Linked DNA regions of Homo sapiens. The protein of the gene in region 3 interacts with the protein of the main gene of each other region in a pairwise test. Each region holds a gene or a part of one and is shown on either strand. Other genes may lie near its edges.

Region 1 (7,643 bases), on a different chromosome or scaffold from region 3:
GGGCCCGACATCTTAACCTTACTGTCTCCTGTTACTCCTTATGACGCCAGCCCCAGGATTACAGTCTTTAAAATGGGGGTTAATGTCTTACCCAGCCTCCTTCTTCCCCTGGCCTTCACCACCTCGGTGGGCTAATAACCGTGAAAATAAAAGCAGGAGCAAAGCTTTGGGTGCTAACTGCATGTCAGGAACTATGCCACGTGCTTTTTTTATGGATTCAGCATCGTAGAGATGAGACACATGGGACTCAGAATGTGGTGGTAACAGCATTTGAACTCAAGTCTCTCTGGACATAAAAAATCCTCATCGTAATAGCTCCTACTGAGACAGTCATGGTCATTGCTGATTACTGGGTGGTCACTGTGGGTAACGCAGGAGCTGACATATATCATTCTCCCCACTGCTTAACTGCTTACAACGATCCCTGCATTTATCATTAGGCCCATTTCTCAGAAAAGTAAGTAGAGGCTAAAAAGTTGAGAGCACGCAACAAACGTGGGATTGGGTCCCAGTCTGTGGCGGCTCCCTCAGCCCTCGGCGTGGCCCTCACCTTGCCCTGGGGTTTCACCCCAGCTGCGGTGAACACTAGCAACTTCTCCAAGTTCTCCCAGCCGGGGTTTGACTTCCGCATACGCTTCTTCGGCAGCTCAGCATCTCTCTTCTCATCTTGGGACACCAGAGGGGTGCCAGGCGGAGTATCTGGCTGGGATTCTGGTGTGCGGGTCTCTTCCCAGCGCAGGGTCAGTGGGTGGAGGCCATTGACCAAATACAGTGTGTCCCCCACCCCCAGAGAGCCCTCCAACCCCGGCTTCAACTCCTGGGTCCCGGTAGTTGAGGGGTTAACTCCCAGCTGCAGAAAGAGAGGGAGGAGCTGGGACTGGCTCCGCCCCCACCGGGAGCTTCCTCCAATCAAATACCCAGCGGAAAAATCAGCCCTTCTCCACCACTATCAGACCCTTAGGCCCCACCTCTTCACTTTGGAACGGGCTTTGGAACGGTTACAGGTTTTCAGCCTTGTCCGAATCTTTTTTTTTTTTTTTTTTTTTTTTCCCCTGGAGATATAGGCTTGTTTTGTCGCCCAGGCTGGAGTGCAGTGGTGCAATCTTGGCTCATTGAAACCTGTGCCTCCTGGGTTCAAACGATTCTCCTGCCTCAGCTACCCGAGTAGCTGGGATTACAGGCACCCGCCACCATGCCCCGCTAATTTTTGTATTTTTAGTAGAGATGGGGTTTCGCCATGTTGGCCAGGCTGGTCACAAACTCCTGATCTCGGGTGATCCGCCCGCCTAGCCTCCCAAAGTGCTGGGATTACAGGCGTGAGCCACCGCGCCTGGCCGCCTTGTCCAATTTCTAAGGTCTTGGACAGGTACCCACCCCACTGAAACAGGCAACACTTCTTTCTTTACTGGACACATCCCCTTCTCTCCCAGCCATATTTTTTCTTTTCTTTTTTTGAGACAGGTTCTCGCTCTGTCACCCAGGCTGAAGTACAGTGTGGTGATCACTGCTCACTACACCCTTGACCTACTGGGCTCAAGGGATCCTCCCGCTTCAGCCTCCCGATTAGGAACTACAAGGACGCGCCACCATTCCCGCTAATTTTTTAGAGAGACAGGTTTCACCATGTCGCTCAGGCTGGTCTCGAACTCCTGGGTTCAAGCGATCCGCCCGCCTCGGCCTCCCAAAGTGCTGGGATTACAGGCTTGAGCCACCACGCCCGGCCCCAATCAGATTTTCCTAATGTACCCCTTCACTGACGGCTTGCAATTCCTCCCCAAATCCCATCCCCAGGCCTTGCTGGCCCTTGCAGAGGCACTGATACCTGTTTCACTGCCACTGTCCGGGTCTCAGGATCTGCGACCAGCTCCACTGAGGATTGGAGGGGTGGAGTCAGGATTTGCATCCTTGTGTGATTGGGTCCCTCATTTCTGGGGAGTGTGGCCTGCTTCAGGCTATAGCATCCAGGGAGTAAGAGGCAGTTTATTTCTACATGGGATTGGCTCCTTGACATGCAGTAGCCAGATAGTGGCACTAGGATTGCCTGACACTGGTCCTTGCAAGGGACAGGGAGGTACTTTTCTCTACAGAATTGGTTTCCTCCTTGACAAAAAATGTGGCTAGATATAGGTCCGGGGCTTGGCCTGTTACCATCCATCCCAACCTAGCGACATTTACTTTTCTCCACAGGATCATTTTTCTCTTGACGAAGGTCGTCGCCTGTTTCTGGATTTCCCGATGGCCTGAGCATCATCCGCGCAGTGAACATCCTCCCTAAATCGGCTCGATCCCCTCTCCCCCAAAGGATCTAGCTAATTCTAAATCAAGCACAAACTTTATCTTCCTGTACTCCCTAGAGAGCACCTTCCGACTTCGGGGCTGGCTGCACCACTGCAATCCCGCGTAGCAGCCAAGCGTCCCTCTGGATTGTTCCCGCTTTTGCAGCAGGCCACACCCCCTCCAGCTCAGGCCCCGCTCACCTTGAGTTCTGGAGCACTTCCGGTCCGTAACCTGGGTCAGGGGTCCCCTGCCCAGGACCAGGGCTTGCCCGTCCGAGGGCAGGAAGATGGGGGGCGCTCCCCCAGGGGGGCTCTCGAGCCACAAGCGGCCCGGGGCCTCCACCTCGCCCATCCTGGGTGCCGGCCTGGGGAGCAGGTAAACGGGCTTGAGCGGCGCACAGCCCCAATTTGCTGCAGGAAGTCCCGCCTCCTCCCACATCCACTAGAAAGTTTCCCCACCATTAACTGCTCCGGAAGTCCCACCCGCTCGCCTTCCGCGGGTCGACCCGTTTCCCAGGCGACGACGCGTGCTCCATCCCTCCCCGAGTTGCAATCCCCACTTTCCAGCGTACAGGCAGAGAGCCTCGCACATGCCTCCGCCCCGCCCCGTACTCACCCGGGACCGCGGCTTGGGCTCACGGCCACTTCCGACCAGGGAGGTCCTGCCCGAGGTGCCCCGCCTGCAACCCGGCCGGCGGCGGTCGGTTCCTCGGCGGACGGAAATGACTCGTCCCCTCGTGGGTGGGGGGCGGGGCCTGGCCTCCTCCCACAGCAGCCACGCCCCTTCCCCGACTCCCGGCCCCCAGGGTCTCTCGGCAGCCCTGACCTTCATCTCTCTTGCTGCAACGCGAGGCTCAGGCCGGTAGCGGGGACTGGATCCTCCGTTAGCAGATTTGCCTCTTTCCACCTTGACTTCTAATTTTCATCCCAGGGAGGAAGATTTTTTTCCCATCTGATGGTCATTGTCAGTCGAGGAAACCTCCGCCCCCGACAGCGCCCCTAAGTCCTTCTTTGGCTTCACCCTCGATGTTCTAGTTTCCTCATCTATAAAAAGGATAATCGTTTCCGCTTCGTGGGGTTACCATGACGATTAAAGGAGCTAACACGTGACAAAAGCTTTAAAAAATGGGTGGTAGTGAGCCCTGTTTAAGTCTTTTTTTTTTTTTTTTTTTGAGACGGAGTCTCACTCTGTCGCCCAGGCTGGAGTGCAGTGGCGCGATCTCGGCTCACCTGCAAGCTCCGCCTCCCGGGTTGACGCCATTCTCCTGTCTCAGCCTCCCGAGTAGCTGGGACTACAGGCGCCCGCCACCACGCCCAGCTAATTTTTTGTATTTTGAGTAGAGACGGGGTTTCACCGTGTTAGCCAGGACGGTCTCGATCTCCTGATCTCGTGATCCGCCCACCTCGGCCTCCCAAAGTGCTCAGATCCGTTTAAGTCTTATTTAGTGTTAGCATTCTTTCGGTAGTGGTCTGGTGGGACTACGTTTACCTAGTCCTAATTTCGGACGAGGTTCCACCTGCTTTCTAACCTCCAGCCATTTTTTTTTCCCTTTGGAGAAGGGGTCTCACTGTGCTGCCCAGGCTGATCTCGACCTCCTGGTGTCATGTGATCCTCCCGCCTTGGCCTCCCAGCGTGTTGGGCTTATAGGCGTGAGGCACCAAGCCCAGTTGCTCCAGTCCTTTTATAATAGAAGACTCCCGGCTGGAGTTCCTGGCTTTGCTGGTGAATATGTGGGCTCTGTCTCCAACACTCACCTCCTCAAGATTGGGTTCCATGGTCACATAAGACTGGGATGCTCTCCTCCACCCCATGAACCTGTGTCTTCATATCTATAAAATGGGCACAAAGCCAGGCGCCGTGGCTCACGCCTGTAATCCCAGCACTTTGGGAGGCCAAGGCGGGTGGATCATTTGAGGTCAGGAGTTCAAGACCATCCTGACCAACATGATGAAACCCTGTTTCTACTGAAAATACAAAAATTACCCGGGCGGCAGTGGCGCGTAATCCCAGCTACTCGGGAGGTTGAGGCAGGAGAATCGCTTGAACCTGGGCGAGAGTGGGACCCTGTCTCAAAAAAGTAAATAAAATGGGCACAGTAATTCCAACCCCCAGCTATTCACTGATAATCAGACGCTGCCATTCGGTTTCAGAAAATGTTGAATGAACACTCACAACACACTTCACATTTATCTCAGAGGTAAAACTCTTTAATCTCAGAGCGCCCCTCCCAACTGCCGATCCCCCAACCCCTCACTCTCTCCCCCACACCAGGGCCGGAGAGTGAGGGCCCCTGCCCCCCACCTTGGGTGGACGAGGGCCCTTTAAGGCACCTGTGGAGGTGGGGGGCGAGGGGCGGGAGCTGGTACCATCCTGGATGCAGGGACGGGCTTCGATTGGCAGGCTGTTGTGGGGATGGATGGAACCAATGAAAGGGGGTGCCAGAGGCAGGGACAGTTTGGGGCCATCCCTGAGGGGGTCAGGGAACAAGTTGTCGGGACGTGGGCAAAGACGACCCCAGTCCCCGTAGTGTAAAGAACGTAAATTGAAGGCCCCGGGCCAATTCTGGGAAGAGGAGGGCTTGGCCACGCCCCCAGGAAGCTGGAGCCAATTGGGAGGGAGAACTCAGGAAAAGCGGACGGTGACTATGTAGAGACTGGTCAAGCCCTTTACAGGATTTGAGCCAATCAAAAAAAGAGCTGTCCAGCGACTAGGGGATGGAGCCAATGCCGTGCGAGCAAATCCCTTGTCGCTAGGCGGAAAACAAAGGAGTTGACCCATTTAGAGCTTAGAACTCAGCGAGCCAATCCCTTAATAGAAGGAATCTGTCGCTAGGCGGAGAGAGACGACAGACCCAATCGGGAAACGGGACAGATGCCGCTCCTCGGCGCGGCAGGTCGTGGGCTGGAAGGACGGCGGGGATTGGCAGAGGCGGGACAATCTTGGGAATGGGAGACGCAAGGAGGCCGGTCCCGGATCGGCCTCAGATTAGCAGGCCCCGGGAGTGGGGCGGGGGCGTAGTGTGGGACGGGGCGGACGCGGCCCGGGGCGCTCCCTCCCTGGACTTCAATATTTCCGCTTCAGCTTCTGGAAGTCGCTGGTGTTAAGCCGCGGCCGTGGCAGGTCCCCGAAGACCTGGGTGTCCTCGGCCTCTCGCAGCACCAGCGCGCGCATGCTCGCCGCGATGCGGTCCAGGTCGGGCGAAGAGGGCTGCGGGGACGGCGACGGGGCGAGGTCAGCGCCGGCAGGGCAATCCCCCTGCACCCACACGCGGTCCAGGGGTGCACCCGGGCTCCAAGCCCACTTCTAGCACGTCCCTGCCCTGCCACCTGTGCCCTGCGATGCCCACTGCCAGCAGTGCCCCTCCCCGTCTTGCTCCACGTAGGAACCCTTCTACCCGGTTCAGACACCTCCTCCACGAAGCCTACCTGCCCCTCTCCCTCTCCCCTTCTTGGCCTAGGACATTGCTTCCTACACAGTGGAAGTGCTGTTGCCTGCTAGCCATTAAGGCTGAGTGCACCGTCTCATGTCTGAGGATCTGGGCTGGGGTTTCAGTCATGTTCCAATCAGACCTCTGCCGCTGACAAACTATGAGCAAGAGGTTTTGCTTCCCTAGGCCTCAGTCTCCCCTTCTGAAAAATGGGGCGGATAACAGGGTCTCTGTGAGGGCTGAGATAATCAGCTGTTACTGCCTTATCATGTGGCCACTGCGCTACAGAAAAGATCCCTCGCTGTGTCAGCCCCCGCCAAGGAGCCTGCAGTTCTGGCACCTAGTACTGCCTCCACTACAGCCCCCGTCACCCGGAGCTGGGCCTGTCCCCTCGCAGGATGGGACCCGGAGACCCAGATCAGGAACTGGACCTGAGCCCAGTGGGAGACCAGCCCCCGGGCACAGCACGCAAGAGGCCAGAGCATTCAATTAACTGTGTTGCCATGAGTCGCAAGCACAGAGAGCAGCAGCAGGTGGACCCCGCCCGCACCAGGCCCTGTTCCTGGTCTTCAGTGCTCACTGCTTCATTGAGGGAGGATGCACAGAAAAGGTCACCACTGTGACTGCTGGTTTGCATATAAGGACACTGAGGCTTGAGGGGGGGACTGTGGGGACCCAGGCCTCCTCCCTCAAAGCCCACAGCTCCTTCCTGAAACACACCTGGGTTCCAGTCCCAGCTCTGCCTCTCAGGGAAGTCACATGTCCCCTCAGTGCCTCAGTTTCCCCTCTGCTTCAGGGAGGCTCAGTGAAGGGTGAGGAGGACCCACCTAGGCCAGCAGAGCCCAGCCCAGGAGCTTCAAACAGGGGTTGCTACAAGGGGTGAACAGGGGACCAGGGGGTGGGACAAATTCTGCAAAGGGCTAGGAATGTGCAGGGTGGGGATGGGAGGTGATCTGAACCCTCCAAGCCTCAGTTTCTCCACTGGAGGGCATGCCAAAACACCTGTGCCTTGCCCAGAGCAGGTGTTCTATAAATAGAGACGCTCCTGGAAAGGAGAGGCCTTCTCTATAAGGCACTAGGACACATGGTAAGGCTGCAATTGTTAAAACTGCAAGGCTCGTGTCCAAGAACTCGCCTCTTGAGGTTGAGGGGAGGATTCAGTTAGCTTATGGGTGGAAAGCAGCATCCATGCTGGAGGGCTTCCTGGAGGAGGCGGCTCAGAGCCCTTCCAGCTGCCCTCCCTACCTCCCCACATTTGCCCCTCACCGGCCCATTCTCCTCATCTGATGACCGCGCCTCTGTCCTCTTCTCCTTGAAGCCCCAGACGGGCACAGACACAGGCAGGGACTTGGCGTACTGCTGTGTGGGTAGGGCTGAGGCTGGGGGCACTGAGCAGGTGGGGGGGCCGGCGGGGGTCTCCTCGCTCAGGCTGCCATCTGAAAGAGAGGGTGGACTTCAGCTTCTGTCCCTGCCTTTGTGTCGGCCGTGTGCCTGCCCTCAGGTCGGGAGGGGAACAGCCTGGGACACTCACCATCTGTACTCTCGGGGTCTGACTCACAGAAGGGGGGAAGGTCCTGGAGGGTGGCGTCCTCATCCATCACAAAGAGCCCTGTGGATGACCTGAGTTAGAGGCCCAGGCCAGGCAGCACCTAGCCATGCTCCATGTGTCCTCCTCCTCAGCCACGGCCACTGCCACAGCCACCACCTCCACCTCCCTGAAGCTTCTGAGACCCATTTCCTTCACCTCAAAAACAACTTCCTCTAGCAGCCTGCCTGGTCATCGGCAAAAACCAACCCAGTTTCTATGGATCTGCCACCCTCTCAGCTGCACACAACGGGCTGCTAACATGAAACCTCTACGATCTGTTCGGGACAATGTGACTCAAAACACAGCCTTAGAGAAACATGCAATGACTATGACCTCTGTTTCACAAATGGA
Region 2 (7,928 bases), on a different chromosome or scaffold from region 3:
TGATTAGTTAAGAAAACGCCACCGAGAACTAGCTGTGTGATGTCCCAGGGCCTCACTTTTCTCACCTGCAGTGGCACCTGAGAAGGCACTCAGTTCAGATCCTCACATATAGTGAGCTCTTGGTGACGAGTTCTCATTGCCCCAGAGTCCAACACCCTGGCGACAACAGCTTCATGCAGAGTAGGTAGGTATGTCACGCCCCTCTGGACCTCAGTTTCCCCATCTAAAGCTCCCCACCATCACAACGCTACCACCTTGCTCCAGGAACAGGGCAAAGAAACACCACCCCCATTAAATATCTGAGGAGCCCACAACCGAGAGAGAAGCAGGGACTCGCGCAGGGTCACACAGTCAGTCAGGGCAAAGCCTGGGCTGCGTCTCTTGAATGTGACACCAAAAGAGGGGAAGGAGTGCCACTCACCTGGGGCAGACGACGAGGGGGCCAAGGGCAACACTGGCTGGCTAAGGGCAGCAGGTGGAGGCCGGGGCTGCAGGTGTGGTGTGGCCTTGAGCAGGCTCAGTTCCTTCCAGCTGTCTGCCTTGGTGTCATCCTCATCCCGCGGGCTAGTGGCCCTGTCAATGAACTGCAAGCACAGTCACACAGATCAGTGTATATGAAATCTGGGCAGTCATAGCAAAGCCCAGGGCAAAGCAGACCAGCGTGCTGGGTGGAGAAGCAGGTGCCCTGGGCTCCCATGAAGGCCTTGGGCAGTCCCCACCCCTCCCCAGGGCCCCTCTGAAAAGCCCAACCCTGTTGTCCTCCTCTAGGAGCTTCAGGCATGACCCGCCCACTTGGCCTTACCCGCTTCACGGCCAGGGTGGCAATGCCCAGCACAGCAGCCCCGCCCACGCCCAGCACCAGGCGGGCATTGGCCAGGAGGAAGTCCACCATGCTGCCCAGCCCTTCGTCGCTACGCCGCTTCCCCCGTTTCTGGGAGAACTCTGCCATGGTCTGCCTGTAAGAGAGCCAGGGGTGAAGGGGCAGCTCAGGTGCAGGTGGCCAGGCTGGGAGAGGGGCTGCTGTGGACAGGTGCTCTAGCTGTCCTTATGCTGGGTAACAGAGCTGAGCCCATGAGGGGGGCTTTCTGAGAATTTCTCAGAGAAAGGGGCCACCCATCCACAGGGGAGGACACCGAGGCCCTGGGAAATCACGTAAAGTACCTGAGAAAGGGCAGGGATGGGATATGAGCTTGGGTTTTGGGGTCCCAAGCCCCCATCTCTCATGAGGAGATGAGGGAGCTGCCAAGCCCCTTCTCCCAAAGCTGCCTGGAAAGAAGCTCACAAAGGCCCTGAGGCTTGTGCAGGTATAGGAAGGGGCCTCTCTCCCTGGAGCCCACCCTCCAGGACCTCTGACATCACCAGGGTGTCATCATCACTACCCCTATGTTACAGAGCTACAGGCTGCCAGCTCACAAGTGAGTGGTAAGGTCTCCAACCCATGACTGCAAGGCCTCCAGACTCTCATCCGCCCACAGAGTCTGACGGATTCTCCCTGTGCCAGGTGCCCAGGTCCTCAGCAGCAGCCTCATCTGAAGGTTCCTACCCAGAGGGCACAGCAGCCCTCTATGATAACCTCTTCAGAAGAGCCCAAAGTCCAGAGAAGACCAACAATTTGGGGCCCCAGCCAGTCTGGGGGACCACTGGGACCAGTTACCCCCAAATCTTGACAGGGTAGCCCAAGAGGCAGAGCTACCAAGTCAGAGCACGGGCAGAGTAAGACGGCCCAAGCTGCCCAGGCAGGCCAATGCAGATGTGCTTGTCAGGGTTGAAGCCCCTTTGGCAGGGCAGAAAGGGCTGCCCAGTGCCTCTGTACAGGGGGCTCTCTGGGCCTCTCAGTCTTGGGACAATGTGTAGGTAGTGGTGGGTGATGCTTCTCAACTGCCGGAAGGCCAAGCAACACAGAAAGTAAGGTGAAGGCCTGGGCCCCAGCCTGTTTGCTCACCTGTAAGATGGCATAGGCAGCAGTGAGGGGCAGATGTGGGCAGCCTTGAAGTGTGTGGCTGGGTGGGGGCCAGCACTTGGGAAGTGGAGGCAAAGATCTCCTAGGGCCCAGTCCACATTCCTCACGTTCTGCGAGGGGGACACTGCCCTCAGGCCCTGGGAGCTGAGAAGGGCTGGGACCTTAGGACATCAGTTAGACACCAAGCAGAACTCTCCCGGGGAGGCCTGAGCAGATGACCATGAGGTCACAGCCTGCCCGGGCACCAAGGACTTCTACCTGCCCTGCCAGAGTGTGGGTGCCAGGGGCCCAGTTGCCAGGTGACCAGATGCCTGGAGTAGCTGAAGCCTGAAGCGCTGTGTGACTCAGCCCCGTACACCCGCCCATTCGCCCCAGACTAAAAATAAGACGGTCTCTGGGGCGATCCCAGGCCAACCGGGTGACCCGCCACGGCCCCAGGGCCGGTTTCAATCTCCTCATCGGTGACTCGGGGATCAATACTGCCACCCGCCCCCAGAGAGACCAGGAATCTACTTTGCAAACTGTAAAGCGCTTTAAATACTCCCAACCTGTCTAAATTGGGACTCAGCCCCATCTCTGGCGGGGTCGCGCAGGCCTCAGTCCACAGCCTTCCAGCTCCGAGAAGCAGGAAAGGGCACGGGTGGCTGAAAATAACCCAAGTTTGCGCAGCGGGGCCCTGGAGGCCGTTTGGCCTTCCCTCCTCCGCCAAACCTGCCTGCCCTGGGCCCGGGCGGAGCAGGCCGCGCAGCAGCCCTAGGTGGGCGGGTGACGCCCCGTTCGCAGGATAAACCAAGAGACCGAGAGGGGAAGGGGGCTGGGCTAGGATTCGAACGCTGCCCTTGGTCCCCCAAAGGTCCCCTCCCCGCCTTCCCCAGCGGTGATCGCGGGCCACGCCCCCGATCTGCGTTCCGTCGCGCGCCAAGCCCCGAGCCCGGTGACCCTGGGGGCCGCCCCGCCGCGCTCCAGCTGTACCTGCGTCGCAGCTTCCGCACGACGACCGGAGGAGGCAGCGGGACCACGGCCCCGGAGCTCAGACCAGCCTGGGAATGGAACGTGAAGGACCCTGGAACCCAACGACTAGGGCCCCGGGGGCAGCCGCGGACTTCGCAGCACGCAGACAAGCAGGCCCTAACTCCAATCGGAGCGCTCGAGTCCAGCGCACAGGTGCCAAAATACTGCGCGGTTCAGCCAATGAAGGGCAGGTCCCGCCCCCCAGCCGACAGCCGCACTCCCTCTGGGGCGGGACTCCCTGACGCAGTCTGGATTTAAAGGTGCAGGGCTGCATTCCGAGACCGCGAACAGGTGACGTGACAGGCGACCCTCCAGGACGTCTGTGCGTTGTAATGTGAGCCTCCGGTGTGGAGGAAGCTGTCTGGGCCCCGTTCCTTCTGGGGACCAGGTAGAGAGGCTGCACATGGCTAGAGGCCCGGCACATCCAACCTCTTAGGTCACCTCTGCGAGAGAGTGTCTTGGTGGCCTCATTCTTACCTGTGGGCCTGAGGGGCACAGCGCCTACCCCTGCCACCTGCTCTGTGCGAGCTTGTGTGGGCCATTCTCCACCTGGGCATCAGTTTTTCTCCTGTAAAATGGGGACACTAGACCCCCTCCTCCCCTGCGAAGGATGGTTGGGCATATAACAGCTGTGGCTCATTTATTGGGGTCCTGCTATGTGTCAGCCAGGGCGAGCCCCCTTGAACAGCAAGGACCAAGACGGATGCTTCTCTTCTGGAGCCTCCCTTTGTAGGGGGGTACGAGCACAGGGGTGCTGACACTAAGTGGGAATAATAACCTGGCGCACAAAACAAAACAAAACGGAATAATAACCTGCCACTCACTGAGCGCCTGCTGTATGCTGCGAGCTACACGTGCATTCTTTGTTAATTTGCTCATGGTGACAACCTTAGAAAGTATTTTACAAATGAGGAAACTGGGTAGGGCGCGGTGGCTCACGCCTGTCATCCCAACACTCTGAGAAGCTGATACCAGAGGATCACTTGAGGCCAGGAGATCAAGACCAGCCTGGGCAACATAGCAAGCACCCCGTGTCTACAAAAAGTATAAATAAGGCCGGGCGCGGTGGCTCACGCCTGTAATCCCAGCACTTTGGGAGGCCGAGGCGGTTGGATCACGAGGTCAGAAGATCGAGACCATCCTGGCTAACACGGTGAAACCCCGTCTCTACTAAAAATACAAAAAAAAAAAAAAAAAAAATTAGCCGGGCGTAGTGGCGGGTGCCTGTAGTCCCAGCTACCCGGGAGGCTGAGGCAGGAGAATGGCGTGAACCCGGGAGGCGGAGGTTGCAGTGAGCCGAGACTGCGCCACTGCACTCCAGCCTGGGCGACAGAGCGAGACTCTGTCTCAAAAAAAATAAAAAATAAATAAAATAAATAAATTTAGCCAGGTGTGGTGGCCTGCGCCTATAATCCCAGGTAGTCGGGAGGCTGAGCCCAGGAGTTCGAGGCTGCAGTGAGCTATGATCACACCACTGCACTCCAGCCTGGGCAGCAGAGCAAGAAGACCCTGTCTCAACAAAACAAAAACAACACATGAGGAAACTAAGTCCAGAAGCAGGAGAGCTAGGACCCGAGGATCCAGGTGTCTCACTACCACCGGTCAGCCAAGTACAGGCACTTCCTGGGCCTCTGCGCCCCGGGGCCGAGGTTTAGAATCTCTCTGAGGTCAGGGCCAGCTTCATGTGCTGCAGCAGCGCAGGTGACGGTGCCTCGACCAGCGGCCGTTACGGCCCCTGCCCTGGGGCGCTGGGACTTAAGCCTGGAGATCGTGGAAGCCTCCAACTCCAGCACAGGGGGGGCCCGCACTCCTTGGTGCCTCCGCAGTCTTCGAACAGACGGGGAAACTGAGGCCCTAAGAGGCCTAAAGCCTACACTTCCCCGCGGAATGCGGCGGGCGCGGGCGGGTTAAAGGGGCGGGGCCGGCGCTGGCCCAGCCCGCGGCTCCCCCCAGCGCCCTCGCCCCGGCGCTCCCTAGCCCGGCGCGGCCCGGCAGCGAGAGCGGCGCCATGGAGGCCACCGGGGTGCTGCCGTTCGTGCGTGGCGTGGACCTCAGCGGCAACGACTTCAAGGTGAGCCGGGCCGGGCGCGTGCCGGGCCTCCCTGCAGGCCTTCTCTTCCGCCCGGCCCGCTTGGCCTCCGCTTCCTGTCCCGCTCGGCTCCAGGCCCTGCGTGTCCCAGGGACTGCGGCCGGGGCGGGGTGGGGCTCTCCCCTGGCCAGGAATGGACCTCCGAGGCCTCCGCCCAGTGCCTGTACGGGGAGACCGAGGCTGGGCAGGCCGGGGACGGACGCTTGGGCTCGGAGTCCCGCCGGGGGCCCGGCCGGGAGCCCCCACCCCGCGTCCGTGTTCTCGGTCTAGGCTGGATGGTGGCCTGGGGATCGGGCGAGCCTCCCCGCCCCTCTGAGGTCACACGCCCAAGCCAGGCCCTGACTCAGGGATGGCTGCCCGGCTGCCCAGGGGCGGGTGTGGAGCCGACTCATCACTGCCCTCTCCCCGCCACCGCCACCCGCCATACTGTGTGATCCTGGGCCTCTCAGATCACTTCCCCTCTCAGAGCCTAGGCTTTCTCAGCCGGTGAAGGGGCTTAAAAGTCTCCTCCTTGGACGCAAGGAGTATAGTGAGATTTGTTGGTGTGGAGAGTGTGTCAGGCCGGTGTGCCAGGTGCTGGGTGGCAGTTGTCTGAGCAGCTGCTGGACTGAGAGAAAAGGGACCGGAGCCCAGCCCTCCGCAGCCAGTGGGTGGGGCGGCGGGGTGGTTCCAGGACTCAAGAATGAGACAGGCATTGCCTGACCAAAGGGGAAGCAGAGAAAGAGAGGGAGGGAGAGCTGGCTGGAGGGTCAGCCTCACCTTCAGGGTGGGTGACTGGCAGGGTCGGCCTGGGTTGTTGGTCTGGGGCTGGGGCCGAGGAGGCAGGTTTTTCCTGCGTTTACCTGCCTGTGTACACACCTTTGACCCCAAGTACAAGTGGCTACACCACTTTTCCCTGACCCCATCCCCACCACCCTAACCTGGGGTCCCCGTTCCTCTTTGCTGAACTGGGAGAGTCCGAGTCACCAGCTGGGAATGTGGCGCTAGGGGGAAAGGAATATCAGCCGCAGGCACTGAAGGCACCTACTGCCCCAGACTTGGTGCCACAAGGGCTGGAGGTGCCGAGGTGGGCGTTCACACACCAGGGGAGTGCAGTGATGCTGGCCTGCCCTGCAGGGTGGGGAGCCACGGTCTCCGCAAGCAAGGGTTTGACCCTGGCCGTGAGTTGCCAGTGTGCTGATGGCAGGATGAGGGCACAGGTGGCGCCTTTGCAAAGGCTTGGAAGGGGGATCCCCCACCCCAGGCAGCCAGTCAGAGTGTGGAATGCTAGGTGAAGGAATTTGAGCCGAGCTAACCACAGAGCCGGATGCTGGGCTTTCACCTGAAACAAGCCAGTTTTGTCCTGGCCCTCCTGGGGCCCAGAATCCAGTAGGAGAGACAAATCTTAGGCCAACACTTTTGTCACGGGGGGGCTTAAAATTCCCATTCTATGGGTGAAGAAATTGAGGCACAATGATGAAATGACTTGTCTGTGTTCTCACAGATGGTGAGAGTTGGTTCTGTGGCTCCCCAAAGGCTCCCATGGGCTGGAGGAGCCATAGAAGGTGGTGAGCAGGGGCTCTGTGCTTCACCTTGACATCCTTCCCCCAGGGCGGCTACTTCCCTGAGAATGTCAAGGCCATGACCAGCCTGCGGTGGCTGAAGCTGAACCGCACTGGCCTCTGCTACCTGCCCGAGGAGCTGGCCGCCCTGCAGAAGCTGGTAAGGGGGTTTGGGCGGGCAGGGGAGGGTCCCTGTGGATGAGCCAGGTGGGCAGAGCCTGTGGAGAAGGCAGACAACTTCTCCAGAGAGAGGAACACCGACAGCTATGAGCAGAGCTGGAAGAAAGGGAGTGGGCACCCTGTCCAGGGAGGTGTGCAAGAAGAGGCCGGGTGAGTGAGGGAGGGAAGCTGCAGGGGTAGTTGGGCCAGTGTGGCTGAGGCCTTCCTGGATGGTGCAGAGTTGTGGAGGCAGGCAGGGACTCTGGACACCCCACCCACCCTGCTGAGCCTGTGCTCCCCATTCCGGCCCAGGAACACTTGTCTGTGAGCCACAACAACCTGACCACGCTTCATGGGGAGCTGTCCAGCCTGCCATCGCTGCGCGTGAGTGCTGGCCGGGAGGCCACCGAGCTTGGGGTTGGGGCCAAGGTCCGGTCAGGGACGTGAAGCCTGGGCTAGACACCAAGCTGGGCCAGCATTTCTGCCCACCTCCGTGTCAGGCTCAGAGGCTCAGGTGTCACAGAGGGGCCCTCTCATTAGAGGTTACAGCAGTGCCCTGTGTAAAGTAACCCATGTGGATCAGAGAATTCCATCAGGAAAAAGGTAAAGAAATCCAAAATCTTACCAGCCGTTATGGACAATAACTACAGTAATAATAGCCAAGACTGGCTGAGCAATGTTCCCACTATTCTGTTAGGATTTTTTCATATGCTCTAGCCCTCCACTAATGTTGCAGAAGAGAAACTTGGCCACCAAGGCAGATTACTTGCCCCAGGTCACAGAGCCAGGCAGTGGTAGAGCTGGTGTTGAGTGGGGTTTGGCCGGGAGCACCGTGTACCTTCTACCCAAGACTTGAACGTCCCAGAACATCAGGCCCTTGGCCAGACCCTGTAGGCCTCAACGAGGGCCATCCCATCTGAAGTCAGAGCCCTGGAGATGTTTAGGGCACAGCTTCTGACTTGGACTCTCTGAGTTCAAAGCTGGGCTTTGCCACTTCCTGGTGATGTGACTTTGTACAAATCGCTTCTACCTTCTGGGCCTCCTCTGCAAGTGCAGTGGTTGGGAGGGGCAGCAGTGACCCCGTGAAGCAGCAGCAGGGTGCCGCACAGGCATTCAGACTGGAGAAGTGGCGGGGCAGCTCCGGTGACTCCCGTTGTCACTTGGAGTC
Region 3 (7,422 bases):
CTCCATCTTCTTTCTATTCTCCCCTGACTTCAATCAGGCCTCTGACCCCATCCAGCCACCAAGACTGCTCTCGTGGAAGTGACAACTGATAACCTCCACGGGTAATCTGCTCTTAACTTCTGAGACCCATCAACAGTACTGGGTCCCATCCCCTTCCTAAAGCACTCTCTTCCCTCACTTTCTGGGGCATCCTTCTCTCTTGGTTCTCCTCCTCCTTCTCTCGCCACGCCTCTCAGCTGTCTTTGCCGGCTTCTGCTCATCCTCTAAACTTCTACACACCTAGAGAAAACCAGAGGTCAAACCTTGGACCTCATCTTGACGATCTCATCTCTCTCCTATTTCCTCCCACAAACTCTACAGTGTTACGTCCAACTGCTTTCCTCACATCTCCACTTGGATGCTACCTGGATCTCAGACTTCACGTCCACACTGAAATGATTTTCCTCCCTGAACCTGCTCCTCCCACAGTCACTTAATGGCAACTCCACCTCTCCAGATGCTCAGGTCGAATGCCATGAGGCATCCTTGCCTCCTCCCACTCTCACACATCCAATCCGTCAACAGTGTGGCCTGCTGGCTGTACACTCAGACCATTTACAGAATCTGACCACTTTTTTGTTTTTTAAACAGGCTTTTTTGCTCTTTAAACCACTTCTATCACTGATTTGAGCCACAGTCATCTCTTGCCAGGACAACTGTACTTGTCTCCAGCCCAGTCTCTGGGCTTCTAACATTGCCTCTACAGTTTGTTCTCCACAGAGCTGCCAGAGTGATCCTTTAAAATCCAAGTCGGTCACACCACCACTCTGCTCTAAACCCAAAGGCTTCCTATCACACTCAGAGTAAAGCTAAAATCCTTTCTATGGCCTATGAGAACCCTCACAATTGAGAATCCCCCTTCCTGCTTCACCTTTTCTTCTACAATTGTCCCTCTTCTCTGCCCCGCTGCTAGAGCCCCTCTGGCCTCCTTACTGGCCCTGAACATGCTGACCACACACCACTTGGGACTCTGTATCTGCCTTGGAGGCTTTTATTCACAGGATGCTCAGACATCCCAGCAGCTCTTCTGAGCTGTGCTCACATGACTCCCTGGCAGGGAGGCCTTATCTAAGTAATATGGCAACCCCAACCTCCTCAACCTGCTCTGACTTTTTCTGTGGCTGTCTGACACATTATATACTTGTTTATTCACTGTTTCCTCCAATTAAAATTTAAGTTCCATGTGAAAGAGGTATTTGCACTGGTCACTGTTATTAACACCTGCATCTTGAACAATGTCAAACATATGCAGGAACTTGAATATTTGTTAATGAACGATCACCTCCTCTGAACTCACAGCACTTGTCTATACAGCCAGTCACTCTAATCTTTGATTGATTACTTCTCCACATATCTTTCTCCCCTCTAGACAGTGGGCTCAAGATAAGTGATATTACCTTTGCATCTCCAAAGTTTAGAGTAGCACTGTCCAATAGAACTTTCTGCAATGCAAATGTTCTGTATCTGCGCTGTTTAATACAGTAGCCTTTAACCACATGTGCCTACTGAACATGTGAAATGTGGTTGCTGTGACTAAGGAACTGAATGTTAAATTTTATTTAATTTTAATTAATTTAAATTTAATTGCTCCAGGCGCAGTGGCTCAAGCCTGTCATCCAAGCACTTTGGGAGGTCAAGGTGGGCGGATCACTTGAGGTCAGGAGTTCGAGACCAGCCTGACCAACATGGTGAAACCCCCATCTCTACTAAAAACACAAAATAATTAGCAGGGCATGGTGGCAGGTGCCTGTAATCCCAGCTACTCAGGAGGCTGAGGCAGGAGAATTGCTTGAACCCGGGAGGCAGAGGTTGCAGCGAGTCGAGATCACGCCACTGCACTCCAGGCCTGAGCGACAAAGCAAGACTCCATCTAAAAAAAAAAAAAAAAAAAATTCATTGGCCACATGTGGCTGTGGTAATATACAGAGTTACAGAGTGCAATGAGAACAGATACTTGTCTTACACTCTCTGAACCCAAAACTGTAGCCCAGAACTCTACCCACACCAAGTGCTGAGTAAGTATAATGACAAGGAAGTCAGGAGAGACAAATAGAAGATCCTTATGAAATACAATTCAATTTTAAACGTCCAACTTCTGCGACAGCACACAATAACGTGCAATATAATCGCATGCAATAACAAAAAAACTTACACCGCAGTTCCTGCTCCACTGCTACTTTTAACCTTCTTGCTGGAGGAAGTAACCCTTATCAAGTCTCGCTGGTAAGGCGCAGACACAAGGGCTTTTATTAAGAAAAAAAAAAAAATCTCTTACCAGGGCTCACTGCCTTAACAGAAAAATTTTAATTCAATATTATTTCACTTACCAATGTCCTGTTTATTTTTCCTCCAGTCTCCCTATTTCCAAAAGACCACCCCCCAGCAAACACACACATAACACCACCTTTACCTCCAAAGACAAACAGATGCAACAAGCTTTAGGGTCTCGGCTCACTGCAGCTTGCAGGATAAATGCCCTGCATAGCTACTTACGCTGCACAGCCCGAGGCCAGACCCCGCACCAGGCTCAGAAAACCAAATAGTACGTGGGAGCGATGGATTATTTGGGAAAGCGAGGGCAGACGTTAGCGGATTCCTAAGTCAGAAGGCCAGATGGGAGAGTCGGGGGGGGGCCTCAAAGTGGGTTTAAGTAGACCGCATGGAAAACTGGAAAGTTCTCAAATTCTACCCAGGAAGCAGGCGGAGCCCTCCTAAATCAACCAGCCGGGCAGAGGAGTCCCAGACCCCCGGCCTCGCACCCACCCCACCCGCTCGGCCGGTCCTCAGTGCGGCCGGGGCCAGCGGGCAGCCCCGGGACTGGACGAGGGCGCAAGTTCGCTACCTGCGCAGTCAGGCCCTGCTCCTCGTCGTCCTGGCCGCTCAGGACTCGCCGCAGCTTCTCCATGGCCCTGTTACAGGGCCGTAGCGGCCGCCACTCTGTTGCCTGCCCCTGACGCCCACCAGGAAACCCCGAACCCGAAACCCCACAGACCAGCCGGAAGTCCGGTCCCGCCCGCTTCCTGTGCGTCAGCGCGGCCGCCGTAGCAATGCGCGCATGCTCACCAGCCTTTCTCTCGGACCCGGTAGTGGTCCGTGAAGTCCGCGGAGTGGGCGCTGATGGTGGGGCTATCCCTTCCCACTGTCCGCGAGGTGCGCCGTGGTAACGCGCGGGGACACAGCGCGGGTGTGGACCCCCTGCCCACAGCTGGCGCACAGCCATTGAGTGTAGACCCGACTGGGGCACGACCACTGAACCCTGCACTTGGCGTCCTCCGGGCCCCGCGAGGGGCCTTGCTGGGCGGGTCCGCGGCACCCCGGGTTCCCAGAAGTCGAGGCCCCGAATGCGCCTCCCCTCGCCTGGAATCGGAGAGCGGAGGGCTCCTGCGGGCAGGTGGCCGTGCTCCGAAGAGCGCCCTGCCACCCATGAGGTGGCCCTGGGGGCGTCGCTAGCCTTCCCAGCTGGGTGTCCTCATCCGGAGACACAAACACCTGCCTCAGGATTAAAGCGAGGAGCTGTATTTCAGACCGTCTCAGGAGAAATAGCAAGAGGCTGCCTCACTCCTTTGCCCTTGTGAGAGCTATTTCTTTACTCAGTTCACTGGTCAGCTAGGAGTTTGAAAGAGTGAAATCTTATTTATAAAAGGAATAGCTAATGCAACCCATTTTTCCAGTTTTGTGTGAACAGTGAAACCATTGAACAAGCGTTTACTGTTCTCCGGCTCGTGCTGGATGAACAAACACTAAGAAATGGGGAAGTGGCATTTTTCTCTCTCTCATTTTCCACCATGCTAAGAAAGGAGATTAAAAATCAGGGCTGCCTGTCTAATATGGTCTCCAGAAGTCATTAAGTGATAGGTTTTGCTCTTCTGTTTGCTTCTAGGCTTGGTAAGATGGTAATGAGAATGCCTGTTCTTTTGATTACTTTGCCCACTCCATTTCCTCCCTAAAATCTTTCAGTTAAAAGGTGGATCCTCAAAAAGTTTCATTGTCCATCCTACTGCCTCAGTAGAGATTTTATCTAAACTCAATTAGATAAAAACAAATACCACAGGAACCCTAGGAAAGCAAGTCGCGCCTTCTTGTGATGAAACGGTCCAATGCTCAGCATCCTTTTCCTTTAGGCAGAAGATATTTCTATGTGGCCTGTTCATACTAATATGAGAAGTCTTATCCTTATGTCCTTAACTTTAAAAGGTCAGAAAATAGATTGTAAAATCTATAGAATAAAACTATGTTTCTGTTGAATAAGAGAGTATGTCCGTAAGTGTTACGGGAAAGGGGTCCGGATCCATACCCCAAAAGAGGGTTCTTGGATCTTGCGCAAAAAGAATTCAGGGCAAGTGAAAACAAGTTTATTTAAAAAGTAGAGGAACATCGGTAGTCTGAGGCAGAGAATTGCTTGAACCCGGGAGGCGGAGCTTGCAGTGAGCCGAGATCGCGCCCCTGCACTCCAGCCTGGGCGACAGAGCGAGACTCCGTCTCAAAAAAAAAAAAAAAAAGTAGAAGGACAAAAGAATAGCTACTCCATAGGCAGAGCAGGGCTGTCTATTACCAGGGCTGCTGGTTGCCCATTTTTATGGTTATTTCTTGATGATATGCTAAACAAGGGGTGGATTCATGCCTCCCCTTTTTAGACCATATAGGCTAACTTCGTGATATTGCCATGGCATTTGTAAACTGCCATGGCGCTAGTGGGAGTGTAGCAATGAGAACGACCAGAGGTCTCTCTTGTTACCTTGGTTTTGGTGGGATTTGGCCGGTTTCTTTACTGCAGTCTGTTTCATCAGCAAGGTCTTTATGATCTGTATCTTGTGCTGACCTTCTATCTTATCCTGTGTCTTAGAATGACTTAACTGTCTGGGAATGCAGCTCAGTGGGTCTCAACCTCATTTTACCCAGCCGCTATTCAAGATGGGCTTCTCTGGTTCACATATCTGACATAACTGCTTTCAAGATTTTCAAGTATAGGCCGAGCGCGGTGGCTCACTCCTGTAATCCCAGCACTTTGGGAGGCAAAGGCGGGTGGGTCACAAGGTCAGGAGTTTGAGACCAGCCTGGACAATATGGTGAAACCCCGTCTCTACCAAAAATACAAAAATTAGTTGGGCATGGTGGCGGGCGCCTGTAGTCCCAACTACTTGGGAAGCTGAGACAGGAGAATCGCTTGAACCCAGGAGGTGGAGGTTGCAGTGAGCTGAGGTCGCTCGTTTGCACTCCATCCTGGGCAACAGAGTGAGACTCTGTCTCAAAAAACAAACAAAAAAACCTTACTTCCTAGCTCTTCCTGCTTCCTGGCCACATAGTTTTTTCAAGAGCCAATGACTCCTGAACACAAGGACATGCACAAAATTGTTGGGGTGATCAGACCCAACACCAGGTTGTGGGAGTGACAAAGTCCAGCAGAGTCAAAAGATTGAGAAAAAAGTTTGAGAGAGAAATGTGGGACAACAGGGGCCATTGCTATTGCGGAGGCTGTGAAGGCCCCGAGCTCTGGGAGCCCACAGTGTTTATTGGTAATCCAACTAAGAAACAGGTGGTGAGAATGTGGAGGTCATGTTGCATTAAGCACATGATTTACAGCTGTGACAGTTTAGCATTTATATGGAACATGTTCTGCTACTTGAGATAATGGGAATAGGTGCCTAGGAGCCTAGGAAGGCTAGAAGCAAGGAGCCAGCAAGTCTAGACACATTCCAGAGGACATTATGCAAGCCCTGCCTCAGTTTCCCCCCAACACTCAGCTTTTTCCCAGCATGCCCCCCTTCTCTTTATTGTAAAAGAGAAGATATCATTATTACTAGCTATCATTATTACTAGCATGGCTCTGGTTTGAATGCTTCCCACATATCTCCCCTTTCCCTTTTACAAGAAGACCCTTAATCCTAGGGGTTGCAGAAGGATGAAGGTCCATCTTCTGTAACTTCTTCATGCTGAATAGGGGTGACGATATTCCTGTCTAACTGTTAGGGTCTCTCATATTCAGGGTAGAGAGGAGCTGAGTCAGAAAGCATTGGCCCGTTAAGCATCGTGACTCCGGTCGGTCCTCATTCCTTCTTCGCATTCAGATTCAACTGGCTCATGGCTCACACTGGGGGAACCCGGTCCAAGGTTGGGATCCATGGGTACCTCCAGTCTCCCATTCCATGGTCGTACACATCTTGAGGGTATCCACACGGTTTGTTCATCTCCTGCAAAAACACAAGCATACCCTCACCCCCACGTTAGTAAATCTACTGAAACAGAAGCAAAAACTTTTGTGGCTGTAGCCGGGAGGCCACTGATAATGAGAAACAGGCCTTTTCTGATTAACAGAAGGCATAGAGAAAGCAAATCGAGGCTTTTCAAACCTTCAATTCGCACTGTACTCTACATGTGGGTCCACTAGATGCCGTGGCTCGTGATAGATCTTCAGATGGTTGGTGGGCACCCACACAGACACCTGAGTGTCACCTGGAGAGACACAAGCAAATCCTCTTCCCCACAAAATTATCTTTAGGCAGGGATCAGAGGACGTAGATTCAGAGGTAAAGAGAATTTGGGGGGCCTAATGGCTTCCTCATGTTTGATAGGTGTTCCCTCGGAAGTTAGGAATTCCCTTTCTCTCCATATTGCTGCGTGGGCTTGGAGGACTAGGTAAGCATGCTTAGAGTCTGTATATTTAACCTTTTTCCTTCTAATTCTAGTGTATAATGGCCCCTGCTTTTGCTAGAATGTCTCTCCCTAACAAAGGAGTGGGGCTTTCGGGCGTAATTAGAAAGGCATGTGAAAAGAGTAAATTTCCCCAGTCACAACTTAGTGGCTGGGAGAAGTATCAAGTGACTGCCTGTCCTAGGACCCCTCAGATAGTGACAGATCTGGAGGACAATTGTCCAGGACAGGAGAGTAAGACTGAGAAGACCGCACCAGTGTCCAGGAAACAGTTAACCTCCTGGCCCTCAATGGTCAAGCATACCTGGGGCTCTGTGTGGGTGATGGCATGGGCTGGTGCTTGCCCTGGTACCCTCAGTCCTGCTGCTGGATCATCTGGTTAGTGGCTTCTGACTCAGAGGACCTTTGTCCCCCAGGGCAGTGGGACTTCAAATTCAAATTCTGAGGCGTTTGTTGTTAGGAGTAGAAAAGTACTTTCCGAAACACATACCTTCTCCTTATTGGAATATCCCCTTTATCTACTAAAATGTACAGAAAACTCTAGGGCAAAAACTTCCCAAATGTTTGTAAATCTCAACTCCTCAGATGTAGTGTCTGGGCTAGGTAAGGCAGGGGCATAGACTGGAAAAAGTATAAAGCTTCCATTTTTTGTTTGCAACCAATTCTTCTGCAGTGATTAACAAATGGCCTTGATGCAAATAAAGAAAATCTACCCCTTAACTGCCCTCTGCCTCC
Region 4 (7,936 bases), on a different chromosome or scaffold from region 3:
TGCACTCCAGAGCTCATATCAACTGTGGTTTGATTCCAACTGGAGGGAAGGTGAATAGACAGGAGCAGACAGAAACAGGGTGGTCAAGCATCCCAGTTTGCCTGGGACTTGAGGCGAGGAAGGGTAGGGGAGCTTCCCAAGACATGAGACTTTCTATGCTAAAACCAGCATGGCAAGTGGAGAAGTTTCAACATGTGTTTTGGAGGGGTCAAGTATTCAAACCACAACAGACGCTAACTACTTAGAGTTAGCACAGACCTCACAGGTTAAGGGCTCAGTCCCACAACACTGCCCTCACTTCAGGTGCCAGTCACAAGTAGTGGGTCCCAGACTATCCACACTTCTGTTTGACTTGGCTACAAAGCAAGGTTTCCCATGACCTGCTCTTCAGGTTTAGTAATTTGCTATAAGAGCTCACAGAAGTCAGAGAAACATTTTATCTACTGCCTTATTCCATCTGGGCTGCTGGAACAAAATACCATAGACTGAGTAATTTATAAACCCTAGAAATGTATTGCTCACAGTTCTGGAGATTGGGAAGTCCAAGATCAAGACACCAGCAGCTTCAGTGTCTGGTAAGGGCTCTCTCCCTCATAGAAGGTAACTTCTTACTGTGTCCTCACATGGCAGAAGGAGAAAGGGACAAACATGCTCCCTCGGGCCTCTTTTATAAGGGCACTAATTCCATTCACGAGGGCTCCATCCTCTTGACCTAATTACCTCCCAAAGGCCCCACCTCTTAATATCAACACTTTGCAGATTAGACTTGAACATACACATTTCGGAGGGACACAATCAGATCATAACATCTATGTTTACTAGTTTATTACAAAGCATATTTTAAAGGATACAGATGAACATCTAGATTAAAAGGGTCTTAGGGGCCAGGCACGGTGGCTCACACCTGTAATCCCAGCACTTTGGGAGGCCGAGGCGGGCGGATCACGAGATGAGGAGATCAAGACCATCCTGGCTACCACGGTGAAACCCTGTCTCTACTAAAAATACAAAAAATTAGCCGGGCATGGTGGCGTGTGCCTATAGTCCCAGCTACTCGGGAGGCTGAGGCAGGAGAACGGCATGAACCCAGGAAGCGGAGCTTGCAGTGAGCCGAGATAGCGCCACTGCACTCCAGCCTGGGCGACAGAGCGAATCTCCATCTCAAAAAAAAAAAAAAAAAAAGTCTTAGGGCCAGGTTCCAAAGGAAACTGTTCCTCTAATCACAACACTTCTGGAAGAATCTCAAGCATCAGAGCTTCTGTTCCCATGGGGTTTGGGAGGTGACACCTTCCCAGCATGTGGATGCATTCACCAACTTGGAAGCTCTCTGAACCCCATTGTTTAATAAGTTTTTATGAAGTTTCATTACCTAGGTATAATTGATAAAATCATTGGCCATTAGTAATGACAGTCAAAAGAAATGTTTTTATATGAGGAATATGAGCTTCCTCTAAATTATCAGGCCCAAAAAAAGGCATGAGAAAGAGACAGCAGTCACATCTCACTTCCTCCCTCTTGCTGAATAATCATCTTTTGAAGCTGCTTGCTATGTGGACTCTAGACTGACTGCCCCCCAAGTAGCTATAAATTAACCTAACAATACTGCATGCTGCACAACATAACTCATACCCTATCATTCAACAATGTATAGCCATCACTAATCAATGTTATTTCTGTAAACCAATGAGAATTCCTGACAAACAACTTTTTATCTGCCCCATGCCTAGTCCCCTTTTTTACCTTTAAAAACCTGCTTGTAACAAAGGCTTAATGAAGCTCATATCCCAGGTTACTTGCATGTGAGTCTTCTGGGCAGCTGTCTTCATTTTGGTTCAAATGTAAACTCTCCACTTTTATTAATTTTGCCTCCGTTTCTTCTTTTAGATAAACTGTAATCAAATCAATCTCCAGCCTCTCTCCTCTCTCTGGAGGTTGAGAGGTGGGGCTAAAAGTTTCAGCCCTCTAATCACATGGTTGGTTTCTCTGATAACCAGCTCCCATCTTCCAAAAGCCACTTCATTAGTGGCATAAACTCAGGTATGGTTAAAAGGGGCTTATGATGAATAACAAAAGATGTCACTATCATTCAAGAAGTTACAAGTGTTTTACAAATGCCCATCAATGATAGCCTGGATAAAGAAAATGTGGTACATATACACCATGGACTACTATGCAACCATAAAAAGGAATGAGATCATGTCCTTTGCAGGGACACAGATGGCGCTGAAAGCCATTATCCTTGGCAAACTAACACAGGAACAGAAAACCAAACACTGCATGTTCTCACTTATAGGTGGGAGCTGAACAATGAGAACACATGGACACAGGGAGGGGTACAACACACACTGGGGTCTGTCCATGGGACAGGGGGAAGGGAGAGCACCAGGATAAGTAGCCAATGCATGCAGGGCTTAATACCTAGGTGATGAGTTGATAGGTGCAGCAAACCACCACGGCACACGTTTACCTATATAACAAACCTGCACGTCCTGCACATGTATCCTGGAACTTTAAATTAAATTAAAATACACATACACAAATGAAAAACATCAGGATAGCAATTAGCTGGGGTGGAGGGATAAGAAAGAAGAGGAAACTCTCAGAAAATTGCAACAATATTGGTAATATTCTATTTCTTAAGTGGAGTAATGGGTTCACGGGTTTCTTTTCATAATTCTGCTTTGTAACTTGAGCATATTTAAATTTATATATACACTATATATATTATGTATATGTAGCAAACATTTTATAAATACAAATGATATTATCTTTATAAAATGCCTTAATGAAAACCTAAAGAAAAAAGTTACAAGGGTTTTAGAAGCTCTATGCAGAGACCACATATATATTTCTTAAGTCACAGGTGGCTTTTAGTATACTCAGTGTTGTGCAACCATCCCTATTATCCAATTCCAGGACACTTTTACCATCTCAAAAAGAAACCTCAAACCCATCAGAAGTCACTCCCTATTCTCCCCACCTCAACATCACATAGGTGACTCTATCAATTCACCTACTCTGGACATTGCAAATATAAATGGAACTATACAATATGTGGCCTCATGTGTCTAACTTCTTTCCCTTAGCATGTTTTCAAGGTTCTTTCCTCAACAAAACTCCATTAGTTTGTCTAAAGCTTTTCTTTTAACAGATCTATAAATCTGTTGTAATATTGTCTTTTGACAGACAACTTGTGAAGGATTTGGAGTAGAATTTGTGATAAATACATGGAATCTTAATTAACTGTTAACAGAAAAATCAAACTCTGTAAATTACTTAAAGAGGTTTATTCAGGGCCAATGAGTGACCACAGCCCCAGGAAAATACAAACCCAAAAAGCCTTAAGTGTTCCCGAGGCAGTCAGATTATAGTTTGGTTTTATACATTTCAGGGAGCCAGGGGTTACAGGCAAAGACATAAATCAATGTGTGGAAGGTATACACTGGTTTGGCTCCAAAAGACAGGATGTCTTGATGTGGGGGGTTTACAAGTTATATGTGGACTCAAATACATAGATATATACACGATATATGATTGATTGATAGATAGATAGATAGATCTCTTGGTAGGGGTAGATAGGGTCTCCCTATGTTGCCCAGGCTAGTCTTGAACTCTTGGCCTCAAGTGATCCTCCCACCTCAGCCAGCTTGACCAAGAGATTTTTTAATTTGCAACTGGTTAAAAGAGTGAGGCTCTGTGTAAAATTTGGAGTCAGCAGAAAAGAATGTTTAAGATAGTATGCCAGAATCAGCCACAATACACTGGGTCAAAAAAGACCTCTTCAGCAAGATTGATGGTCTGCAAGCTTGACTTAACCCTTGCCTTGCACGGCCTTAGGTCTTGTTTATAATTTGGTATCTTACTACCACAAAGTCTGTTAGTCTTATGATCTCTACTTTAACAAGGGGTGTTCAACCTCCCTTTCCAGAATGGCTGGGAACTCAGTTTTTAAGGTTTCTCTGGGGTCTCCTTGGCTAAGAGGAGGTCCGTTCAGTGCTTGGGGGGCTTACAATTTTATTTTTAGTTTACAAACACAAACAAACGTAATTATTTATTTTTATGTTTTTTGTTTTGTTTTTTGCGACAGAGTCTTGCTCTGTCAACCAGGCTGAGTGCAGTGGCAAGATCGCTGCTCACTGCAACCTCCACCTCCCGGATTCAAGCGATTCTCATGCCTCAGCCTCCCTAGTAGCTGGGACTACAGGTGCGCCCTACCACGCCCGGCTAATTTTTTTGTATTTTTAGTAGAGACGGGGTTTCGCCATGTTGGCCAAGCTGGTCTCGAACTCCTGAACTCAAGTGATCCGCCCACCGAGGCCTGGGATTACAGGCGTGAGCCACCGTGCGTAGCCAAGTAATTATTAACTCCACAGAAAATAAAAGGCTGTGCAGGAAGTAAAAATTAATCAAGTCCATATATAGACCTCAGATACATTTCGTTTGGGCTATCCTGCACTTTACTTTGTAATTAAACACCACTATTTAAAAATCAGGAAAATTGCACATAAAAATCCAGCTGCAAGTGGGCGCTCTGGAGTTCCCCAGTCTCCACTCACTCGTCCTCCCAGCCCCCACAGGCCTCAACGTCGCCTATCCCACTCCACCAGCCCAGTCTTCCACCGCCCTAGGAACTCTCCTACGCCTACGCAAGCAGGGAGGGATAGGGTGACAGCACCGACAACAAAGGGTCGTCTCCCGCACTCCGTATGAGGATGGCGTACTGGTCGGGGGGCAACCGAAGCCTTTCTTCCTAGGTTCTTTATCTTTTCTAAGTTTCCCATGACCTATCGCTCCGCTTGAGCCCTCAGCAAAGATGTCACCCGCCGAAAGGTGTGGCCGGAAGCTGGAGGCGTGGCTTCCGGACGTGCGGGGCGAGGCTCGTCTCGTTTCCGCCGGCGCTCCGAGTGACGTAGGGAAGCGCGCCGCGCACCTCATGGTTCCGGGGACAGTTAGGGCGGCGGATGGAGGTCAGCGGTGGTGCTCGCTGCGTAGGTCTTGTGGCACGGGGAGAAGGGGCGGCTGATCGTGGGTTTCGAGTGCACAACACAGGCGTGGCTGGGAAGGTCCTGGGATGCGGTGGAACTGGGGAGCAGGCTGGGACGCGGTGGGATGCCGTGGGCCTGGCCGTCTGCTCGTTCCGTGCTGGCTTGCCAGTGCGCACGCTTCCTCTCTAGCCCGCGCGGCCAGGCCTGGAAGACGCCGCCCCTGTTGACCGTCCATGACCCCAGCGAGCCAGTTTTCGTGACTTAGTGCAAGTTGTTTTCTCTCTGCATTTTAGAACTAAAGTTTTGGATTGCTGTTTGCCTAAACTCAAGTCTGGCTCCTGGGCTTCCGTTTACTCGGCTAAACTGCTCTTAGGGCTCTTAAAAAATTGGAAAGGCGGCCGGGCGCGGTGGCTCACTCCGGTAATCCCAGCACTTTGGGAGGCCGAGACGGGTGGATCACTTGAGGTCATGGTGAAACCCTGTCTCTACTAAAAATACAAAAATTAGCCAGGTGTGGTGGCGCGGGCCTGTAGTCCCAGCTATTTGGGAGGCTGAGGCAGGAGAATCGCTTGAATCCGGGAGGCTGAGGTTGCAGTGACTCGAGATCGCAGCATTGCACTCCAGTCTGGGCGACAGAGCGAGACTCCGTCTCAAAAAAATAAGTCGGAAAGATTTCTACACTGTGCTTAGGCTCAGGAAGTGGTAGATGTTGCGTTTGGGCAAATACTCCGACTCTCTGATCTCTCTCTCTTTTTTTTTTTCTTTAAGTGGAGTTAGACTAAGCTTTTTACAGCTGCTTTAATCCCCTCATATAAAAAGAAAATGTGCTGGCCATATACCAAGTTCCAGGAAGTGGAGAAAGATCAAACGTACATTCTGCTTTGGCAGAAATGAGGCCTAGGTGAACGTTTTATCTTGCCCTTGTCGCATGTCTTCCCTGGATCATGTAATCACCGTAGGGAGCTAGACTAGCTGATAGAATTTTTTTTCTTTTTTTTTTTTTTTGTGACAGAGTCTCGCTCTGCCACCCAGGCTGGAGTGCAGTGGCGCGATCTCGGCTCACTTCAAGCTCTGCCTCACCCTCCCTAGTAGCTGGGACTACAGGTGCCCGCCACCACGCCCGGCTAATTTTTTTGTATTTTTAGTAGAGACGGTGTTTCACCGTGTTAGCCAGGATGGTCTCGATCTCCTGACCTCGTGATCTGCCCGCCTCAGCCTCCCAAAGTACTGGGATTACAGGCGTGAGCCACTGCGCCTGGCCGATAGAATTGTTAAAAGCAACATCAAGGCTATATGTAACACATTGCTGGAGATGGCAACATTGAGTTTGGCCTTGGAAGGATGAGATGTATTTTAAAGGGTCTTATAGGGGGAGGAGGAGACCCAGATAACAAGCCCTGTAAGGTGAAGTGGAAGTGCAAGGCCTGTTTAAAATGGGGCCTTGTGTTGCTGGGAGGCAGAAAAAGCTAAGACTGAGAAAATCATTCTGGGCCATGTTATGAAGTGCTTCTTATTATTGGTTCAGAATTTTTGCTGTTAGAAATTTGGTGGGGGGGTTTTAGTAGGCTAGTGATGTAATCTACCTTGGTTTCGAGAGGCTCACACCTATGTCTACAGTGTTAAAATATATCCACAGAGGCTTTGGGAATGTGAATTTTTTTTTTTTTTTTTTTTTGAGATGGAGTCTCTCACCCAGGCTGGAGTCCAGTGGTGCAATCTCAGCTCACTGCAATCTCCGCCTCTCAGGTTCAAGCAATTCTTGTGCCTTAGCCTCCCAAGTAGCTGGGATTACAGGCGTGCACCATGATGCCCAGCTAATTTTTATATTTTTAGTAAAGATGGGGTTTCACCATGTTGGCCAGGCTGGTCTCAAACTCCTGACCTCAAGTGATCCACCCGCCTAGGCCTCCCAAAGTGCTGGGATTACAGGCGTGAGCCACCACGCCTGGCCAAGCCCGTAATTTTTAATCCTGGTTACCCTTGAAATAAAAAAATAAAAAAAAATTAATGCTGTCTAGGTCGTGTCTGCAGAGATGCCATCATTTAGGAGGCCTTGGGCAGGACCTGGGAATCTGAATTATTGAACCACATCCTAGGTGATTTCAAATTACAAGCAGGATGGAAACCCTCCCACCCAGGCTGTAATGTTCCTGAGTTTTGATATTTGATGGCATTCTGTACTGAAACAAAAATCCTGTGAGACTTTTGCTTTAGAAAATACTATCACATACCTATGGATTGTCAAGAAAGACTTAGTCTGATTTTACAGATAGAGTGGCTTTGACTATTTCATTTCTCAAGTTTGTGAGTCAGGAACTGCCCCTGTAGTAGCCCCTTCTCTCTCCTTTTTCTCTTCAGGGTTTGGAATCACTTGCTAGGAGTCTTGTCTCTCTGCCACCCAGGACATCATGGCAGCTCACCTGGTAAAGCGATGCACGTGCCTCCTGAGAGAAGCTGCTCGTCAGGCCCCTGCCATGGCTCCAGTTGGCCGACTGAGACTTGCCTGGGTAGCCCATAAGACTCTGACTTCCTCAGCCACCTCACCCATTTCCCACCTCCCAGGTTCCTTGATGGAGCCGGTGGAGAAGGAACGAGCATCTACTCCCTACATAGAGAAGCAGGTGGACCACCTCATCAAGAAGGCCACAAGGCCAGAGGAGCTCCTGGAGCTACTTGGTGGCAGTCACGACTTGGACAGCAATCAAGCAGCAATGGTACTTATCCGGCTCTCTCACTTGCTGTCTGAGAAGCCAGAAGATAAAGGCTTGCTCATACAGGATGCCCACTTTCATCAACTTCTCTGTCTGCTCAACAGTCAGGTGGGTGCCGGAGTGTGGTCTGAGAGCATAGACAAGAGGAAAACAGCCAGAAATGCTGGGGTCCACAGCAGCCAGTGCTTACCAAGCATAGACAGGGGCCTTGCATCTCTTGTGATATTTTTTATTTTTTTA

The links.
Region 1: the proteins of SFT2D1 (region 3) and PNKP interact in binary tests that used the Homo sapiens proteins (3 or more experiments, as listed by UniProt).
Region 2: the proteins of SFT2D1 (region 3) and MIEF2 interact in binary tests that used the Homo sapiens proteins (3 or more experiments, as listed by UniProt).
Region 4: the proteins of SFT2D1 (region 3) and TBRG4 interact in binary tests that used the Homo sapiens proteins (3 or more experiments, as listed by UniProt).

Annotation. Positions count from the first base shown.
Region 1 is NC_000019.10:49,864,577-49,872,219, forward strand, and holds the start of PNKP (bifunctional polynucleotide phosphatase/kinase), read right to left. Parts: upstream 3,001-7,643; 5' UTR 2,893-3,000; intron 2,642-2,892; 5' UTR 2,629-2,641; coding exon 2,478-2,628; intron 1,870-2,477; coding exon 1,823-1,869; intron 851-1,822; coding exon 551-850; intron 1-550. Other genes in the region: AKT1S1 (proline-rich AKT1 substrate 1), read right to left, coding at 5,341-5,484, 6,971-7,140, 7,236-7,313. UniProt on the Homo sapiens protein: Plays a key role in the repair of DNA damage, functioning as part of both the non-homologous end-joining (NHEJ) and base excision repair (BER) pathways.
Region 2 is NC_000017.11:18,255,742-18,263,669, reverse strand, and holds the start of MIEF2 (mitochondrial dynamics protein MID49), read right to left. Parts: upstream 3,009-7,928; 5' UTR 2,933-3,008; exon of another isoform or gene 2,535-2,932; coding exon of another isoform or gene 2,509-2,534; exon of another isoform or gene 1,957-2,508; coding exon of another isoform or gene 1,943-1,956; intron 957-1,942; coding exon of another isoform or gene 950-956; coding exon 803-949; intron 585-802; coding exon 422-584; intron 1-421. Other genes in the region: FLII (protein flightless-1 homolog), read left to right, coding at 4,980-5,042, 6,651-6,761, 7,073-7,144. UniProt on the Homo sapiens protein: Mitochondrial outer membrane protein involved in the regulation of mitochondrial organization.
Region 3 is NC_000006.12:166,339,538-166,346,959, forward strand, and holds the start of SFT2D1 (vesicle transport protein SFT2A), read right to left. Parts: upstream 3,009-7,422; 5' UTR 2,945-3,008; coding exon 2,882-2,944; intron 1-2,881. UniProt on the Homo sapiens protein: May be involved in fusion of retrograde transport vesicles derived from an endocytic compartment with the Golgi complex.
Region 4 is NC_000007.14:45,108,695-45,116,630, reverse strand, and holds the start of TBRG4 (FAST kinase domain-containing protein 4), read left to right. Parts: upstream 1-4,933; 5' UTR 4,934-4,961; coding exon of another isoform or gene 4,962-4,988; intron 4,989-7,343; 5' UTR 7,344-7,387; coding exon of another isoform or gene 7,388-7,393; coding exon 7,394-7,804; intron 7,805-7,936. UniProt on the Homo sapiens protein: Plays a role in processing of mitochondrial RNA precursors and in stabilization of a subset of mature mitochondrial RNA species, such as MT-CO1, MT-CO2, MT-CYB, MT-CO3, MT-ND3, MT-ND5 and MT-ATP8/6. May play a role in cell cycle progression.